Homo sapiens: one gene and its partners. The protein of the gene in region 1 purifies or fractionates together with the protein of each later gene. This does not show direct contact. Each region holds a gene or a part of one and is shown on either strand. Other genes may lie near its edges.

Region 1 (3,500 bases):
AGCACTAGTTTCGAAAAATCGGATTCCATGCTCTCGAGCCAACTTATCGGCCTGCTCCTTCTGCACCTTCCTCTTGGCCTCCATGTCACATTTGTTCCCTAGCAAGAGGTGCTCCACCCCAGCTGAGGCATTCTCCATGATGCTTTTCATCCAGTTCTGAATATTCTCGAAAGATTTCTCATCCGTGATGTCGTATGCTAGGATAATGCCCATGGCTCCACGGTAGTAGGCAGTAGTTATTGTCTTGAACCGCTCTTGGCCAGCTGTGTCCCAGACTTGTAGTTTGATCTTCTTCCCCTCTATATCCACAGTGCGGATCTTGAAATCAATTCCGATGGTGGAGATGTAAGTGTTGTTGAAGTTGTCCTCTGCAAAGCGAATGATCAGACAAGTCTTGCCCACCCCCGAGTCCCCGATCAGCAGCAACTTGAAGAGGTGGTCGTAGGCTTTGGCCATGGCGGACACCGGGGGAGCCGGGGAAGGGATGGGGCTATTTATTTATTTTTGAGACGGAATCGCTCTGTTGTCCAGGCTGGAGTGCAGTCGTGTGATCTCGGCTCACTGCTACCTCTGCCTCCCAGGTTCAAGCAATTCTCGTGCCTCAGCCTCCTGAGTAGCTGGGATTACAGGCACGCACCACCACACCCAGCTAATTTTTGTATTTTTAGTAGAGACAGGTTTTCACCACGTTGGCCAGGCTGGTCTCAAACTCCTGACCTCAGGTGATCTGCCCATCTCGCCCTCCCAAAGTGCTAGGATTACAGGTGTAAGCCACCACGCCTAGCCCAAATTGACTAATTGTATGTGTCTCGGTTTCCTCACCTATAAAATATAGAGACTGGACTAAATGACCTCTAGACTGGCTCTGATCTGCCTGACTGACCTTAAGGCTGACAACTGGTACTGGGTTGGACTCCAGTGGCTATATATACCGAGAACTCTGTCTCTGTTGATAGGTGATAGACTTCTGGAGACTTCATATGTATTTGGTTTAGGGACTCAAAGCTAACAAGTGGAAGGGGGCTTGAGGAATGGAGTCTTACTCTAGCTGGGACTGCTAAGACACTTTTACTGTTATGCCTACTTTGCTGCACTGCTTGGGAGAGTTGCCCACATTAAAGAACATCCTCCATGGGTCTCCTGCATCTAGTGGGCTAACCCATGGTCAGGCCTCAATCCTCCCTAGTTAATGGGTCATTTTATAAGTCATTCTTGTAGAGCCGTACTTCTTTTTTTTTTTTTTTGATGGAGTCTTGCTCTGTCACCCAGGCTGGAGTGCAGTGGCAAAGTCTCGACCCACTGCAGCCTCTGCCTCCCAGGTTCAAGCAATTCTCCTGCTTCAGCCTCCCAAGTAGCTGAGATTACAGGTGTCAGCCACCACACCTGGCTAATTTTTGTGTTTTTAATAGAGACGGGGTTTCACCATGTTCGCCAGACTGGTGTTGAATTCCTGACCTTAGGTGATCCGCCCACCTCAGCCTCCCAAAGTGCTGGGATTTCAGGCATGAGTCACTGCACCCGGCAGAGCTGCACTTCTAAGGGAAGTTAAATCTGATTTCTTCTCTTCTGAGCTAAAAAGGTTGAAAGGAAGAGAAACCTGCCCCATCTCCCTTTTTTTTGTCTCGGGTTTGAAGGTAATAATCATCATACCACTTGACTGGTTTACCAAAAAAAAAAAAAAAAATTAGTATTTTTGTGGGAAAAAATGAGAATAGAAAATAAATAATTGAATCTTATATGTATTATTTCATTTCTGTACCACAGAATTTTTGAGAGTCTAGCTATTATATTTTTTAAATGATACCCTTATAAACATGATAAGATTAAAGATCAAAGCTTAGAGGTGGCTCAACAATTGCTGTGAACAGGGAGGAAGGCAGGACATATTCTTTCTTTTTCAGAGGTGGGATCTCACTATGTTGCCCAGGCTGGTCTCAAACTCCTGGGCTCAAGTGATCCTCCTGCCTTGGCCTCCCAAAATGCTGGTATTACAGGCGTGAACCATGATGTGCAGCCAGAACATACTCTTAAGGCTACATATTAGGGTACGAGGTAGTCTTTTCTAAGTCAGTAGTTACTGATCTCTGAGAATCCAAGGTTGCTTAGTAGCAAGAAAGCTTGCTGACCACATCTGGGCTCTGGCTTGACTTCCCATCTCTGAGAGTTAGTGACAGAGACTTTGCAACTCAAGCGTGTCTGCAATTGTTTCCTGTCTTTACACTCCCCCAGAGCTCAAGTGATATGTTTAGCCATGAGAATTCAGTCCATTCTAACTCCCACATTTTCCTTTATTGTAGAGTAGTAACATTGAGGCTTAATATTCTACCCCTTGGATCACATGCTTTGAAATACATAAAAATGTAAGGGAGTAAGTTGAAAAAACCAGTAACTTTTTCTATTGTTTCTTGAGAGTATAGCATATATATGTCACCTGAAGGAAACTTGATCAGCTTATCATCTGTCCTTTTTTTTTTATTATGGTGTCACCTGTCTTCTCTTTTATTTATTTTTTATTTTGAGAGACGGAGTCTTGCTCTGTTGCCCAGGCTGGAGTACAGTGGCATAATCTCAGCTCACTGCAACCTCCGCCCTCTGGGTTCAAGCGATTCTCCTGCCTCAGCTTCCCAAGTAGCTGGGACTACAGGCATGTGGCGCTACACCCAGCTAATTTTTGTATTTTTTAGTAGAGACGGGGTTTCACTATATGTTGGCCAGGCTGGTCTCAAACTCCTGACCTCTCAAACACCAGAGTGAGACTCTCTCTAAAAATGGAAAATAAATTTTAAAATGTTATAATTAAAGATACTCATTTAAATTGAATAAATTTAGCTTTATGAAAAATTTGCTGTATCATCTTTATTTTGATCCTTTCGTCATAGGCCATTGAAAACTTAATCATAAAATGGTACATGTATATCTGAATTTTTAAGACTGACTGACCAAGGGGACTACAGAATACCCAGTAGAATCAAAGTAATTGTCATGTTCCTCTGTATTAATCTAGTCTACTTTGGGACCTTGAGTTCTCACCTCTCATTCTTTTGCTAACTTCCTCTTTACCCTTTAGTTATGTCTCCTTTTTTTTTTTTTTTTTTTTCCAGAGATAGCGTCTTGTTCTGTCGCCCAGGCTGGAGTGCAGTGGTGTAATCAGCTCACTACAACCTTCAACTCCTGGGCTCCAGTGATTCTCCCACCACAGCCTCTGGAGTAGCTGGGATTACAGGCACATACCACCATGCCCAGCTAATTTTTTTAAATGTTTTCTAGAGACTCAGTCTCGCTATGTTGCCTAGGCTGGTCTCAAACTCCTCACCTCAAGCAAGGCTTCCCCTTTTATCTCCCAAACCCCTGGGATTACAGGCATGGGCCGCTCTGCCAGGCCTGTTTTTTCTCTTTTTCTTTCTCTGTACCACTTTCATATTGTGGCTTCTTCCCTGCCCCCGATCTCCCCCCTACCCACCCCAGGTGGAGTCTTGCTCTGTTACCCAGGCTGGAGTGTG
Region 2 (3,500 bases), on another chromosome or scaffold:
GAGTGAAACTCTGTCTCAAAAAAAGAAACAAAACAAAACAAAACAAAAAAAACTGCTAGGTGCAAACTATGGATGTGTACACAGTATCTGCAAAAGAATGATATGCAGATGAATAACACTGTTTCACTTAACTGTTATGAAAGCAACTGTTACTTGAATTTCATTTTCCTATTTTACATGTATACATTTACAAGTCAGTGTCTGAGTATGGTACATATACCACTGGTATAACATGAAGTACTTTTAGGTGGTATATACTTTAAATAATTTTTTAATGTGTATTGGAAAAACACTTTTTTTTCCACTTATAAAGGCACAAAGCAGTCTTTTCAATAACGTTACTAAGTAAAAATATGTGAGATGATTTAAAGTTCAAATACAGGCAAAATAATCTCTGGCGTTAGAAGTCGAGAGAGAGAGATGACCTCTCGGGAGGAATGAGGCAGAAGGCTCCTGCCAGGTCCCTGGCAATGCTGTTATTTCTGGATCTGGTTGATGACACTGGCATGCTTGCTTTGTGACAATTAAGGAAGCCCAACACCCAGGGGCTCCTGTATGTCTCTGTATATTTATGCTATACTCTAGTAAAAATGTTGTTCTAAAAAATAAGCAAAGAAAAATATTAAAAATTAGTAATGGTACACATACATGGAAAAATTCATGAAGATGATACATCAATGACTCATGTTTGAGAAAAAGTGGTATAAGTAATATACCATAAAATGAGTTCAACCATATTTTTGTGCTTTTATAGGATTATGATGTCAACTTTTATGCTGTTAAGTTTCATACTCCTGAAGTTGGGTAGTAAACTGCACCTTGAAGCTAGGCGGACAGTGCGTGGCCTACAGGCTTTTTGCTCTTCATCACTGCTCTATACGATACGACTGTCTGGACTCTTCAGTCTGAGGCCAACATTGCAGATTTGCTGTTGACATAAACCAACATGTTTGCAAAAGGAAAAACCTCTGACTGTCAGACTGTGGGTGTGGCCATATTACAGTCAAGGCTATCAGTCACAAGAAGGATAATATAAAGGAATGGTTTAGCACAGACATATCACTTACTGCTGGAACTAGAACTTGTAAGTTTCCCCAGATGGTAGGTCAGCAATATTCTCTTCACAGTGATAATGAAATGTCCTTTTGCTACTAGAGGTTATGCACTTCCTCTGAAACTGTTAAGTGATTCTTACTCCTCTTTTTAAGAAATACTCTTTAAAAATCATAACCATTGCAAAAATTCAGATGAAAGTCAAAAGTAAAAATCTCCTATAATCTTATCCCCTAGGCATATATTAATATTTCTATGTGAATCTAACTATACTTACTTCTCAGCATACACATTTAGCAAACATGGAATCATACTATTCAGTTTATAACTGCTTTTTGATCTTTGCAATAGATGTGGACATTCTTCAATAAAATACAATGCAGATTTCAATTTATTAATGTAGATGTACACTCTATTTTACTGAGTGCATAGTATTCCACTGCATGTTGGTGAATTACCCTACTGGTTGACATTTAGGTTGTTTTGCAATATATATACACTGCAAATATGGATATGTATAAGAAATAAAACATCTTGTATAAAGATATATCACCACCTTTTAACAGTCACAATTTATTTAAGATAATTCATTAGTGACAAGAATGACAATGCTTCACCTCAGTCATCAATGAACTTTTACAAACTCATGAAATAAAATTATTTAAAAGTTATGTCACCTGTAAAAAGATGAGGAAATTTAATAGGCAGTATCACAGCCTCTTTCAGTGCTTCTTTGGCTCCTTCAAGTCCAGCAACGTCACTCCATTTCACATTTGGTCGTTCTATAACAATGGCACCTGCAAAAAATTACGTTATCTTTAAATTAAGAAAGACTATTTCACCAAAGTTAGAAGACAACATGAAATAATGATGTTAAAGAAACGCATTATAAAATTGGGAAAGTTTTATGTACTAACAACCTTTTTGAAATAGCGTGAGCAGGAAGCAGGTGTTAGGGAGTAGTCAATAGGACTAGGAACCAGGTGGATGACTAGACAACCTGGGGCATGTTACTTTACCCTTCTGTTTCAGCTTCCTCACTTGTGAAATGAAAATAATACCATCTGCCCAAACTACTTAGATAGGTTGGTGCGAAAATCAAATGACATAATGAATATTAGAGTGTTTGGAAAAGCACCAAACGTTCCATAAGGTGGTTATATTTGAATACATTGATTTTGGAGTATCAAAAGTACTTGTTCTACCATTTCTCCTGTTAACCAAAAGAAAAGGTGATCTAATCCTCTCCTCAACCACTGAAAAAAAAAATATGCTTAACAAATTTAACTCAAGATAGGCAGACAGACAGAAGGGAGAAGGAAAAGGAGAGAGGAAAGGAAGGAATGGAAGCAGATGATGGGAAACCGAGAAAAGATACCCCTGCAGATTTGCAATACTTTCCTAAGATTTGCCCAAGTTTCTATTTGGCTGCTAAATAGATCTATTTACAACTTTTGTTAATTAACAAAGTTAACTTACAGGGAAGATTTAGCTTCTGAATGCAGTATATTCAAAAGCCAAAGCAATTATTGCAGTAAGAGTCCAAGAAGGATGTCTTTTAATATAGCCTACTGACAAATTTTCTAGTTCTCTTTTATCAAAAGCTTTTCTAATTTTCTAGAATATGGAAACTGTTCCACTATAAACTATGAAGCAGCCTGTTCTAAGATGACATGTAGTTAGTTGTTTTAAGTGTAACAGAACACCACCACTTATACAATCTATTACTTTATGAAATCACTGCTACTGATTGTTTCTTCTTGTTAGGAAAGATAATCTGTTACTCTAAGACTAGTTACTAGCAACTTACTTCCCTAAATTATGAAAATCTTTAGCTACTAGATTAAAATTACATGAAACCATAAGCATTTTGTATTCCAAAAGTTCAGACTACTATAAAGTAAGAAAAAAGTAAATTCATTTCGTCTTTTTTATGTTTCATTAAGATTAGTAATCCTAGGATTTCATGTCAGTTAAACAAAAATAAACTTTATTTTATATATGTATACCGTCTGACTCAAGATTTCTGCTATAAATTTTAAAAATGTGTCATGATTTGTTTTCATATATAATACTTCTAAGTTAAAAGGTGACTTTGGAATGTTTACTGATAAACAATCTCATACTAGACATGGTTTGCAAAATTAAAAAGGGGGGATGGGATTATGAAAAATGCTAACAAATGGAATGTACTTCCAATGATATAAATTTATCCGGTCTTTGACTATACTATTTACTAGTATATTACTTAATCACAAAAAATTCACTGAATAAAATTAGCTAACAGAAAACTCAAATCACAAACCGATTTTTAATTTTAACAAATATACACTTAATATCATAATCTAAAACAGAAGTAAAAGATTTAAAATACTGTTCAAAAAACAAGGAAAAATTCAAAAAAGATACAATAGTATGAAATCCAGCAGCAAACCATTAAAAAGTAG
Region 3 (3,500 bases), 6.8 Mb from region 1:
CCGCCCAGGTTCAAGCGATTCTCATGCCTCAGTCTTCTCATGCCTCAGCCTCTGGAGTAGCTGGGACTACAGGCGCGTGCCACCACACCAGGCTAATTTTTTTTTGTATTTTTAGTAGAGATGGGGTTTCACCATGTTGCCCAGGCTGGTCTCAAACTCCTGGCCTCAAGTGATCCACCCACCTTGGCCTCCTAAAGTGCTGAGATTATCCCAAAGGGCTGGGATTACAGGCGTGAGCCACCGTGCCTGGAACCTCCCATCTATTTCAACCCCAGAGTAGGTTTGATCTGGGGCCTTGGAAAAACGCCCTTTCTCAGGTTTTCCAACGGGAAATAAGTAGACCCATTTTCCCCTTTTAGAGCCCTTAAATGCTGGGATAATTGTCCCATCTTTCTTGGTCTACATCCTGAATTTTTAGAACATGTTTTCACCCTAGACAGCCAGTCTAGCCCAGGCCTCACAAGATGCAGCCAATTCAAATCTCCTCTTTATACTTCCCACCTCCCTTAGTTCTCCAGCTGATGTCACTCTCGGTCTCTCCATTCCTTCTTCTTGCCTTACAGCTACATGCAACCCGTGTTCCCTCATCTACGTTGGGTTTAGTGGCTGCTGGTGGATTTCTAGACTACTTCAAGATGAGCACTTTTGAACCCATGTTTGAATTACACACGTGTTAGATCTTAGAGAAAAGGAGCTCAATTATGACATAGCTGATAGAATAGAGAGCTCAGAAATAAACCCACACATATGTTGTCAACTAATCTTTGACAAGGGTACCAAGAATACACATTAGGGAAAGAAGAGTGTCTGCAATAAATGGTATTAGGAAAAGTGAATATCCACATGCAAAAGAATGAAATTGGGCCCTATTCTTATATCATATACAGAATCCAACTCAAAATAGCCTAAAGACTTAGATGTAAGACGTGAAATCATAAAACTCCTAGAAAAAAACATGGGGGAAAAAAACTCCTTGATATTGGTCTTGGCAATGATTATTTAGATATGATACCCAAAGCACAGGCAATGAAGCAAAAACAAACAAGTGGGACTACATTAAACTAAAATGTTTCTGCGCAGCAAAGGAAGTAATCAACAAAACCAAAAGGTAGGTAGCCTATGGCATAAGAAAAAACCCTTGCAAAGCATGTGTGTGATAAGGGGTTAATTTTCAAAATACACAAGAAACTCCTACAATTCTATTGCAAACAAAACAAAACAAGCAAGCCGATGAAAAAATGGGCAAAGGGCTTGAAGAGACATTTCATCAAAGATGACATAAAATAAATGGCCAGCAGGCTTGTGAAAAGATGCTCACCATCGATACCTTTCATAAAACTCAGTGAACTGAAATTAAGGACCTTCCCCAACCAGATAAGGGGCATCTAGGGAAAACCTTTAGCTCATATCATATTTCATGGTGAAATACTGCATGCTTTCCCATAACACTGGGCAAAACAAAAAAAGTATGCTCTCACTACTTCTATTCAATATGATACTGGAAGGTTCTAGATAGGCAAGAAAAAAGAAAAGGCCTAAAGATTGTATAAGAAAATAGCTGGGCACAGTGGCTCACGCCTGTAATCCCAGCTACTCAGAAAGTTGAAATGGGAGAATCCCTTGAATCGAGGAGAAGGAGGCTGCAACAGGCCAAGATCTTGCCACTGTATTCCAGCTGGGGTGACAGAGTGACCCTGTCTCAAAAAAAAAAGATTGTTTAAGAAAATAAAGTTGCATTTATCCTGGCTTTGAGCAATTTGAGCATGATGTACCTTAGTGTCATTTTCTTCATGTTTCATGTGCTTGGAGTTTGTCTTTCTAGATCTGTGGACTTACAGTTATTTCATATGATTTAGAAAAATTTCACCCATTATTTCTTAAAAAAAATTTTTTTTGGTATCCTTCTCTCTTTTCTCCTTGGAAGAATCTAATTACACCTGTAGTAGTCCCTAGAGGTTGTCCCATAGCTCATTAAGGATGCTTTCATTTTTTTAATGCTTCATTTTGGTTAATTTCTTTTTTTTTCTTTTTTTTTTTTTTTTTGAGACGGAGTCTCGCTCTGTCGCCCAGGCTGGAGTGCAGTGGCGGGATCTCGGCTCACTGCAAGCTCCGCCTCCCAGGTTCACGCCATTCTCCTGCCTCAGCCTCCCAAGTAGCTGGGACTACAGGCGCCCGCCACTACGCCCGGCTAATTTTTTGTATTTTTAGTAGAGACGGGGTTTCACCGTTTTAGCTGGGATGGTCTCGATCTCCTGACCTCGTGATCCGCCCGCCTCGGCCTCCCAAAGTGCTGGGATTACAGGCCTGAGCCACCGCGCCCGGCCCATTTTGGTTAATTTCTACTGCAATGTATTAAACTCACTTTTTAAAAATCTTTTTGTTTTTTATTAAAAAACGGACAAAGGATCTGAATAGACATTTCTCAAATAAAGATAAGCAAGTGGCTAACAAGTATATGAAAACATGCTCAAAATCAATAATCATCAGGAAAATGCAAATCAAAACCACAATGAGATAGCACCTCACACCTGTTAGGATCGCTATTATCAAAAAAACGAGACAAGTGTTAGTGAGGATGTGTAGAAAAAGGAAACTTCTGTCCTGTCAGTGGGAATGTAAATTGGTACAGCCATTACAGAAAACAGTATGGAGGTTCCTCAAAAAATTAAAAATAGAACCATCATATAAAGCAATTTTACTGCTGGTTATATAACAAAAGGAAATGAAATCAGTATCTATAGCCCAACGTTCATTGCAGCATTATTCACAACAGCCAAGACACTGAAACAACCTTAGCATCCATCAACAGATGAATGGTAAAGAAAATGTGGTGTATATTATTTACATACAATAAGATATTATTCAGCCACAAAAAGAAGGAAATTCTGCCATTTGCAACAACATGAATGAACCTGGAGGGCATTATGCTAAGTGAAATAAACCAGACACAGAAAGACAAATACCACTTGATCTCATATGTGGAATCTAAAAAAGAGTCAAACTCGTAGAAGCAGAGAGTCGAATGGTGGTTGCCAGGGGCTGGGGTTGAGGAAAGTGGGGAGATAATGGTCAAAAGGTACAAAGTTTCAGGTATAAAATGAGTAAGTTCTGGGGATCGAATGTACAGTATGGTGACTTTAGTTAGTAACACTGTACTGTATACTTGAAATTACCTGAGAGAGTAGATTTTAAGTGTCCTCACCACAAACACACAAAAACTGGTAACTATGTAAGGGAATGGATGTATTAACTTGATTGTGGCAGTCATTTCACAATGCACCCGTATATCAAATCATGCACACCTTAAATACATGATTTCTGTCAATCATACCTCAATAAAACTGGGAGAAATAAAACATTACATTTGAAAAAATGTAACTAGAGGGGTAGGATATAAAACACTAAGAAAAATAAATATTTGGGATCTCTATTTTCAGAAAATTGGTGGACAAAGAGGTAAGGTATGGATATAACATCTACTTCTGACTAGCTGGCTTATC
Region 4 (3,500 bases), on another chromosome or scaffold:
CGGCATTTCCCGTAGGACCTGTGCCTCCAGCGCCTCCAACTGCTGCAGGATGGAGGCGAAGTCGGGCCTGCGGTGGGGGTCCTGCGCCCAGCAGTCTAGGGGCACGGCGTGCAGCGGGGACAGAATAAGAAGGGGTCCGTGGGTGGATGTGTCCTGGGCCAGGGAGCTCTGTACCTCACCTGCCCTCCCCGTCCTCTTACCGGCCATAAGCTGTGCGAAGGGCTCGGGGCAGGTGGATGGGATGGGCAGTGTGAGCTTGTTAACAGCTACGCCATAGGCCACAGCAAGGCAGTCAATGCCACGGTATGGCACCTCCCCGGTCAGCAGTTCCCACAGCAGCACCCCAAAACTGTGGGCGAGACAACAGGTCTGTGTTCCCTTTTCTCTCCCAACCCCCACCCCCTTACTGCCACTTCACCCAAAAGCAACTAGGAGCCAAGTGGTTTGGGTCCCTGTCCCTGGACTTGGCCCAGCCCTAGATTTAGGCAGCCACCTCTGCCCTCTGCAGCCCCGTAGCAGCCCGTCCAGCCCCACCAAGGGCCGCACCTCCAGACGTCACTGCCCTTAGAGAAGGTGGAGGCCTTGATAACCTCAGGAGCCATCCAGGCGTAGGTGCCCGCGGCACTCATTTGTGTGGTTTTGTGCCACTCTCGGGCCAGGCCAAAGTCGGTGATCTTCAGGGTCTTGTGCTCCATGTCGTCACTCTCAATGGGCTGCAGCAGCAAAACTAGAGAAGAGGGGCCAGATTGTGGATGCTCCAGGATCAGGTGGTGGGGACAGGGTAAGAGCTGGGAGCAAACTCATCTGACGGACATCCTGGCTGGGTCCTGGGGGCACAGAGGTGACTTGGTCTAGATCTTGAGGACCTACTTGAGGTCAGACATTTCTTTTCTTTTCCTTTTTTTTTTTTCTTAAGATAGAGTTTTGCTCTTGTTGCCCAGGCTGGAGTGCAATGGCGTGATCTTGGCTCACTGCAACCTCCACCTCCTGGGTTCAAGCGATTGTCCTGCCCCAGCCTCCCGAGTAGTGGGATTATGGGCATGTGCCACCACGCCCGACTAATTTTGCATTTTTAGTAGAGACAGGGTTTCTCCATGTTGGTCAGGCTGGTCTCGAACTCCCAACCTCAGGTGATCTGCCCGCCTCGGCCTCCCAAAGTGCTGGGATTACAGGCCACTGCACCTGGCCGAGGCCAAACATTTCACACTCAACCCCAGCACTCAAAACCATTTATGAGCTAAATAATATTTTTCATGTTTCACAGATGAGGAAACCAAGCAGGGAAATGACTTGGCAGAGGTCATACAACAAATACAGCAGAGATTACAACCTGGTCTGTGTGGCTCTGAAACCAGTGTTCTAGCTTTTCCCTAATATTACACTGAAGCAAAACTGGCAAGGTGGCAGCTCTGGACATTTATGGCTTTGATTTCAAGAGAGATCTGTGAGTCTCCTGTCATTTTGTTGAGGCAGGAGCGTGAATCAGAACCCCCCTTAGAGTGGGGAGCAAGAGGGAAGCTCTTGGTGAGAAAAGAAGCCCAGCAGGTACCACAGGCCCCTAGTGCCCACATCACACTGTGGCAAGTGCAGCCACTCCCAAAGCAAAGACTCCAAAAGATACCTACCAATGCAGCTGGAAGGGAAGAGAAAGGGTGGGGTCCAAGAAAGTGATGGTTCTTGGCCACAAAGGAGGAGCTTGGGGTAAATGTAGGCGTGGATGGTCAGACTTGGCAGGGGCTCATGGCTTTAACCCAAATGGGGCCACCGTACTTGGTACAAAGAGGAGAAGCAGCAACTTGCATATCTCTCACCAGGACAGGAATGGCTCAAATGAGAGAAGTTTTCGAGGAATAGAAAGAGGACAAAGTCATAGAGTCATGAAGGGTCTGAAGGGCCCCTCTACTTTTCAGGTTACAGCCAACTGCACTGTGGAAGAGAAGCAATATCAAGTCAACCATGTTTCTGGACCCATGTCAGGGCACACCTCTCAGCTCTCCTGCCCTGTGTGACACGGCTGTCATGGGGGCAGCATAGGGCACAGGGGGTGGGGCAGATGGGAAGGGCACCTAATACAGCCTGGTGAGTCAGGGAAGACTTCCCAGAGGAGGTGGCAGAACCAGGGTGCTCATTTTTCAGGGCTTAAAGCAACAAGCCCTGATCCTGCTGCTGGCCAGGCCACCTGGGCCTTGAGGAGGCATCTGGCACTGCTGCCAGCTGTCCCCGCTGCCCCACCGTCCTCAGCCCCCACAGCCCCTGGCTGCTTGGCTCTGTTTCTGTGTCCTCCACCTTCAGCCATTTCGGCGCTGGTGCTTCTCAGAGCATGACCTCTCCTCAACCTCTGCCCACTGCCCCTGGCTGACTCAGCCTCTTCCAGGTACCAGCTCCCTCTCCCCACTGGCATCTTCCACATTTGCAACTCCAGGCCAGACAAATTGGTTCAGCAGCTCTACCTGATGTCCAGGTGCCCTCCATGACCACCTTTACTATCCCGGCATGCCCAGTAGATTTTCCTGCAATTTTTCCTAATCCAGAGAATGGTCTCAAAATCTACCCACTCCTCTGAGCCAGACCTTGGAGCTGAGTCCTGAACACTTCATCAAGCTGAGGATGACAACAAAACCCTCCTCAGATGGCTGTCACGAGCATGAAACAAGACCACACTTTTAAAGTTTTTGCATGGGGGCTGCCACCTGGCAGAAGCATCCTAAAGGCCAGTTGTCCTAAAGCACTTATCGTATCTCCGCCCTCCTCTCCCTCCTCTGTCACTCCTTACTGCCAACTTCAAAACAGCCTCTGGTCTGGCTGCTGGAGGCGGGGACCTGAGCATTTAGCAAGCCCCCGACGACAAGCTCATTCCAAAGGGGAAACACAGCAGGCTGGGGCAGTGGGTGGAGTGGAAATGGGCACCTCCCCTGGTGCCAGGGCCCACCTTCCCCTTTGAAGACCAACACTTGCTGCTTCTTGGCCTGTCTCTAGCCACTTGTGGCACCCCAGACTGGCAAAGTGCTGTTCCAGTATCTCAGGCCGGGTGGCCACTCTCCACCTTTTTCAGGTGGGGAATCTGAGGCCCAGAGAGGGGCAACAACTCACCCAAAGTTTCAGGACTTCTTTGTACTTGTGGTCTTTCTGCTACCTCCCCGCTCCTGGCTCTGCCAGCTGCTAAGCCCCATCCTCTGCTTTCTCTCCAAGCTCCTCTCTGTGCTTTCAACTGTCCCAACTCGAACTGCTGTTCTGGTGTCTGATGTAGATCCCAGGCATGGGAGGTCAGGGGTCACCCAGAGGAGAATGGGCCAGAGACCCCGAAACTGGGGGAAGCTCTCAGTGCCCCTTTAGGGCTCCCTGGCCTCTGATAGGGACCTGGCCACCAGCTCCCTCCCTGGGCTGGCCTCTGTGGGGCTTGGGAGTGGCCTGGGCAGCTCACACCTCTTCCGCTTTCCTCCCGTGGTCCCTACTTCTCCTTTCTGGGAGGCCTGGGCCAGGTCTCCCACTTGGGAGGGGGA

The links. The genes of interacting proteins can lie anywhere in the genome.
Region 2: the proteins of RAB5B (region 1) and VPS4B fractionate together in Homo sapiens (co-fractionation; one large-scale study listed by BioGRID). This does not show direct contact.
Region 3: the proteins of RAB5B (region 1) and PPM1H purify together in Homo sapiens (co-immunoprecipitation; one study listed by IntAct). This does not show direct contact.
Region 4: the proteins of RAB5B (region 1) and MAP3K11 fractionate together in Homo sapiens (co-fractionation; one large-scale study listed by BioGRID). This does not show direct contact.

What each region holds. Positions count from the first base shown.
Region 1 is NC_000012.12:55,980,578-55,984,077, forward strand, and holds part of RAB5B (ras-related protein Rab-5B), read left to right. Parts: intron 1-3,500. UniProt on the Homo sapiens protein: The small GTPases Rab are key regulators of intracellular membrane trafficking, from the formation of transport vesicles to their fusion with membranes.
Region 2 is NC_000018.10:63,401,977-63,405,476, forward strand, and holds part of VPS4B (vacuolar protein sorting-associated protein 4B), read right to left. Parts: intron 3,060-3,500; exon of another isoform or gene 1,851-3,059; coding exon 1,731-1,850; exon of another isoform or gene 755-1,730; intron 1-754.
Region 3 is NC_000012.12:62,802,651-62,806,150, forward strand, and holds part of PPM1H (protein phosphatase 1H), read right to left. Parts: intron 1-3,500. UniProt on the Homo sapiens protein: Dephosphorylates CDKN1B at 'Thr-187', thus removing a signal for proteasomal degradation.
Region 4 is NC_000011.10:65,607,722-65,611,221, forward strand, and holds part of MAP3K11 (mitogen-activated protein kinase kinase kinase 11), read right to left. Parts: intron 728-3,500; coding exon 547-727; intron 350-546; coding exon 201-349; intron 96-200; coding exon 1-95. UniProt on the Homo sapiens protein: Activates the JUN N-terminal pathway. Required for serum-stimulated cell proliferation and for mitogen and cytokine activation of MAPK14 (p38), MAPK3 (ERK) and MAPK8 (JNK1) through phosphorylation and activation of MAP2K4/MKK4 and MAP2K7/MKK7.